Linked DNA regions of Homo sapiens: region 1 is linked to region 2. Evidence: fine-mapped QTL for protein levels in blood plasma. Region 2 holds a variant in brackets. A gene starts in the other region. All regions are shown on their forward strands.

The links. PIP is the chance, under the fine-mapping model, that this variant and not a neighbour inherited with it causes the effect. Protein levels are from antibody-based Olink assays in UK Biobank. Linkage for the fine-mapping came from a reference panel and not from the study's own genotypes, which makes the PIPs less certain.
Region 1: it holds the start of SCGB3A1, and the variant in region 2 is fine-mapped to the plasma level of the SCGB3A1 protein (UK Biobank, PIP above 0.99).

The regions. Positions count from the first base shown.
Region 1 is chr5:180,589,904-180,592,804 of GRCh38, forward strand. It overlaps SCGB3A1 (secretoglobin family 3A member 1), which reads right to left and starts at 1,596. Exons shown (of 3, transcript NM_052863.3): 1 at 1,508-1,596; 2 at 697-935; 3 at 202-351. The coding sequence starts at 1,559. The coding sequence ends at 328. RefSeq lists enhancers at 1-457, 458-1,127, 1,128-1,797.
Region 2 is chrX:150,607,241-150,610,141 of GRCh38, forward strand. All of the region lies in intron 4 of MTM1 (myotubularin 1), which reads left to right. Among named protein-coding and RNA genes, the nearest start is that of MTM1, 40 kb to the left of the region's middle. The variant A/G (reference allele first, on the strand shown) is at 1,339.

The DNA of each region.
Region 1 (2,901 bases), not on the chromosome of region 2:
GCCAGTTTTGTTTCCAAATCCGGTTTACCTCTGATACTGGCCCCATCTCTGTCACCTTGCACTGCTGGCTCTATGCCACCTGCAGACTCTCGCGGCCTCTCTCTCCCTCTCTCACGCAGCACCCCTCACAAAATCTGGGACTTGGCACTCTCGGTCCCCCACAGGGATCAGCATTTGGATGAGAAAATACCAGGCTCGAGCTGCTCTTAACCACGTTTATTGAGAGGGGCCGGGGGAAGGGGATGGACGGTCCTCCCCGCGGCGGGGTTTTCAGCCCTCGCGGGTGGGCAGCGTCTTGTCCTCAGGTGTAGATGCTCCAGTCTCGGCTCAGCCAAACACTGTCAGGGCCCCCTGGAAAGCAGAAGCCGAGCTTGAGTGCCCCCAGCCCTGCCACCAAGAACTCAGGCGGGGGCGCGGCAGCGGCCGGCTCTGTGGGGAGCGGGAGCGGGGCGGTTCCGCTGGCGTCTCCGGGGGACGCGCACCCGCGCGGGGCCATCTCCGCCTTCCCCGCCCCTGCAGCTCGGATGCGCCCCACCCAGTTCCCACCCGGAGACCCGGGCTTCTCCCAGGGACAGGGCTTGGAGGGGCAGGACGGGAAACAGCCCTGACGTAGGGCCGGGACACCTCTGGTGCAGTTTTGAGGCTGGCCGGGAAGGGATGCCCGCGCAGGAAGGGCACCCGGGGTGCCCACTTTACCAGCAGGGCCTTCAGGGCCTTCACGGCCCCCACGGCCTGGGGACCCAGCTCAGCCACACACTTCTGGGAGCCCTCTATGAGGTGGTTCACGGGGATGCCCAGGCTGCTCAGCAGGAGCTTCAGCGGGTTGAGGGTGCCGAGGGGGTTGGCCAGGGTCCCGGCCCCGGCCTCCGCCGCCGACTCCAGCGCAGCGACAGGCTGGGCCACAGGCTTGGCCGAGCCCACTAAGAAAGCAGCAGCTGCAAGCGAACAGGGAGGGGTCACCGCCTGCGCGCCGGGGTCCCCAGAAGGCAGGTCCAGGACGCGCCCCCGCGGGAGGCGCCCAGGAACCGTCGCGCCCTGCCCGGCTCCCCGACCGCCCCTCCCTCCTGCGCCGAGGCCTGCCAGGTGCGAGCCCCCGGGACACAGGCGGGTCTGGGGAGGCGGCCCCGCCAGGAGACGCTGCAGGGTCACCGGAGTGGCCTGAGGGTGGCGGAAGGACCGGTGAACTCTGTGCAGGGTCCGGGACAGGCCCCCAAGGGAGGGGACACTCGCGCTGCGCCTTGCAGGATGAGGAGCCGGTCTCCAGACGGGGGGCAGACGGGTGTCCCCAGGCCAGGGGCGGCCTCCATCCCGGCACGAGGCTGGAGACAGCCCTGAGAGGGGGAGGCCGCGGGCTGCAGGCGCGGGGCCCCGGGGTGGCGGAGCCCTCTGGGCGCCGGGCGAGGCTGGAAGGACCTGGGATCCACGATCGGCGCAGGCAGCGGCGGGGGCGCAGCGGGCGCCGAGGCCTCAGGCCCCACCGTGCGCGCCAGGAGCCCGGGGCGCTCACCGGAGCTGCAGGACAGGGCCACGCAGAGCCCCAGGAGGGCGGCGAGCTTCATGGCGCGGGGGCTCGGGGCGCGCGGGGAACCTGCGGCTGCCCGGGCAAGGCCACGAGGCTTCTTATACCCGGTCCTCGCCCCTCCAGCGCCGGCCTCGCCCGCGCTCCTGAGAAAGCCCTGCCCGCTCCGCTCACGGCCGTGCCCTGGCCAACTTCCTGCTGCGGCCGGCGGGCCCTGGGAAGCCCGTGCCCCCTTCCCTGCCCGGGCCTCGAGGACTTCCTCTTGGCAGGCGCTGGGGCCCTCTGAGAGCAGGCAGGCCCGGCCTTTGTCTCCGCGAGGCCCACCCCGGCCCGCACCTTCGCTTTGCGGTCTGACCCCACGCGCCCCCCTGCAGGGCTGGGCCCGGGTGAGGGGAGCTTCCCTCGCGCCAGGGCAGGGGCGGGGGCGGCGCAGTTCCTGGCTCCCTGGTCCCTGCCTCTGATCCCAGACCGTGGCAACGTCGGGCACTGGGGGTCCTCGTGGGCGCCTTCTGCGCCTGGGGAGGTGGAGGCGCCAGGGACGATCAGGCCTCACTCCCGGCCGCCTCCCCGGCCGGGCCACAGGCAGCCACAGTGCAAACAGAAGTGGGGCGTTTTTCTGTCTTCGAAACTAGCCTCGACGCCAGTGGATGGGCCTGGTTTGTTCCTGAGTTTCTCTAAATGTCCTCACTCGTCTGTCACCTGCAGAAGTATGACAGATGGAGAGCAAAGCACATTTTGAAAACTTTTGCAAATGATACATAAACTAATTTGCTTTTAGTCCTTCTTCTTTCCTCTATTTTTTGACCCCAGGCATTGAGCACTGAGTGACTCACGTTTTGCTGCGTGGCTGCTCTCAGCTAGGTTGGTGCAAAGTCTCTCTTTTCTTTTGTAAAGTGTAGCTGGCACGCGTGGGAAACAGGCTCCCGGGTGGGAGGACCTGACTCTTCAGGCAGTGTCCTGGAATTCCTTCCCTATGGCTGACAGCACGTCTTAGCCCTCAGCCACCCCGAGCTACTGCGGCCTCCTCCGCACCTGCAGACACTTGTGCCTTTGCCAACTGTTGTGGCCAGGCACACGCATTCACACTGTTTCTGTTCACTTACACTTTTCCTTGACTATTTTGTTTGGGGGATTTTTGCATTATAAATCTGGAGTTTGGTTGTGTTTTGTTGGTCATCATGGAAGTAATTTTAATGGGAAATACGTTTTCTTTTTTAAAAACAGTTTGAAGTTAATTACTTTTTTGGTGGTGGTAAAGACACTGTCTTGCCGTGTTGCCCAGGCTGGTCTCGAACTCCTGAGCTCAAGCAATCCTCCCACCTCAGACTCCCAAGTAGCTGGGACTAGAGGTGTGAGCCACCACACTCAGCGGATTTTGATTT
Region 2 (2,901 bases):
GCCTCCCAAAGTGCTGGGATTACAGGCGCGAGCCACTGCACCCAGCCTTGCCCAAGTATCTTTATTTGAAAACACCTTCTTGTATTCCTGCTACCACTGATACTATCATCCTCTTTCTTCCCCTTATTGCACAAACTTCTTTAAAAATTAGTCCACACATGCTGCTTCCACTTCCGTACTATTGACTCCTTACTTCTTGTGGTCTGGCTTCTGTTCCCTATTGAAACTACTTTACTGCTCAATTCCAGTGGCCTTGGTTGAGTTCTTGACTTTTAAATTTCTATGCAGGGATTGATTCTGTTGACTGCTCCTTCCTTTATCCTTTTCCCTATACATTCCTGGCTCTCCTCTCATTTCTGCCTCTTGCCTTCTATGCGGCTCATTTTTTCTTTCCTACCTCCTAAATATTATTTTCCCCAGAGTTCTGTCCTCACCCTCTTTTTTCTCCATTGTCAGTTGCTTTCCAATTCTCTAGCTCCAGTTCCAATCTTTCATTCTGTATTCATTGAGTATCTGAGAGTCCAGTATGTGTTAAGCACTATGCCAGGTGCTAGGATATGATGGTGAGCACCGCAAACAGTTTCTCCCTCACGAAGCTTATAGTTCTCATGGGATTGATAAACATTCTTCTGATAGTCACGCCAATATATAATAACAAGCTGTGATCAGTGTTGCGTGGGAGTAGTACAGGGGCACAACAGTTTGAGGAGCCTGGGAAATTGTCCTGAGAAAATGCTTGACCTGGGGTCTGAAGAATACATATAAGTTCCCTAGATGTGAGTCAGGGGCTGGGGAGGTGAGAAGAAGCTGAGAGAACAGCATATGAGAGGACCTGAGACCAAAGGAAGCATGAAAAATGACAGTATGGCTGAGTTGGGGGAGAATGGCAAGAGATGAGGTGAGAGAGGTAGATGGTGGCCAGATGTCCTCGGCCTTGCCCACCCTGTTCAGGATTTGGGGTTTTTATTTTTTCATTTATTCATTGGATTGATTGATTTGAGACAGGGTCTCGCTGTTGCCCAGGCTGGAGTGCAGTGGTGCAATCATAGCTCACTGCAGCCATGACCTCCTGAGCTCAAGCAGTCCTCCCACCTCAACTTCCTGAGTAGCTAGGACTATAGCTGCACACTACCATGGCCAGCTAATTTTTGTATTTTTTGTAGAGATAGGGTCTTGCTGTGTTGCCCAGGCTGGTCTCAAACTCCTTGGCTCAAGCGATCCGCCTGCCTCCGCCTCCCAAAGTGCTGGGATTGCAGGCATAAGCCACCATGCCCAGCCCTTTAATTTATTTTTTAATTGACAAAAATTGTATATATCGTGTGCAACGTGTTTTGAAAT[A/G]CATACACATTGTAGAATGAGTCAATCAAGCTACTTAACATAAGCATGGCCTCACATACATATTTTGTGTGGTCAGAACATTTAGAATTTACTCTCAGCAATTTTCTAGTACACAATAGTTGTTAGTTGTAGTCACTTTGTTGTACAGTAGATCTCTGGAACTTACTCCTCCTATTAACTGAAATTTTGTCTCCTTTGACCAACATCTCCCCATTGCCTTCCCCAGGATGATGATGATGATGATGATGATGATTATTATTATTATTTTTGAGATGAAGTCTCGCTCTTGTCCCCCGGCTAGAGGGCAATGGTGTGATCTCGGCTCACTGCAACCTCCGCCTCCCGTGTTCAAGCAATTCTCTTGCCTCAGCCTCCCGAGTAGCTGGGATTACAGGCACCTGCCACCACGCCCAGCTGATTTTTGTATTTTTAGTAGAGACGGGGTTTCACCATGTTGGCCAGGCTGGTCTTGAACTGACCTCAGGTGATCCACCAACCTCGGCCTCCCAAAGTGCTGGTATTACAGGCGTGAGCCACCATGCCTGGTCAGGATTTGGGTTTTTAGAGTTCAGCAATGAGAAGCTTTTGAAGCTTTTCACACCACTTTCAAAGTGGTGTGAGCCAAGGAATGATAACATCAGATGTGCTCTTCTAAAAGATCACCCTGGCTACTCTAGGGGGAATGATCGTAGATTTTGAGACCACTGCAACCACGGCAGTGGCCCAGAGAAGTTGCTGGTAGAATTGGAGTGGTTAGCAGAGTTGAGACTGATTTAAGAGGTAGACATAGGAGACTGGCTTAAGGATAGCAGAGAAGGGGATGCCAGGGGTGACTTCTAGGTTTCTAGCTTTCGTAACCAGCCACTGAGATAGGGAACTTTGGAGAATAATGTAGTTTGGAGAGAGAACTGCATTTAGTTCTGGACATTTTTAGTTCGAGGTACCCTTGAGATCTTGTCAGTTCTGTATATCCAGCCATCTCCTGGGTATCTGTACTTGGTTCATTTATCATAATCTCAAACCAAGAGTTTCTAAAATCGGCCGTGTTCATCTTTCTCTAAAACCCCCTCCTGTGTTCTTCACATCTTTTGGTGGTACCACCACTATTTATCCCAGAGATCTGGGCCCAAAGCTGATTCATCTTTGAGTCTTCCCCAGTGGCTAGTCTCTTTTGCTTTCTACCTCGGTCCTTCTCTACTTCTAGATCCTCATAGCCTCTCACTTGTACTGAAGTATCAGCTTTCATGGTTTTGAGGAGTGGTTGTAGCCCACTTCTTGCTAGTCCAGAATGCTCAGTGCTGCCAGATGAATCTTCATAAAGCACCAGTTAATCATGGCATTCCTGTTCTCCAGAAGCATCCTTTAGATCTCAGTCTCCCTGATCCTAGCCGTGTAGTACTCCCCAGGAAATTCCCATCACCGTTGCTGAAACCTGGCCTATATTTTTTTAAAATAAACTCTCCATGCTTTTCCCACATGTGCAGCTGATGTGACTCTTACTTGCTTCTCAAATGCCAATCTCCAGTTGCTCTTGATCCATCCTTTAAGGATCATTTTTAATGC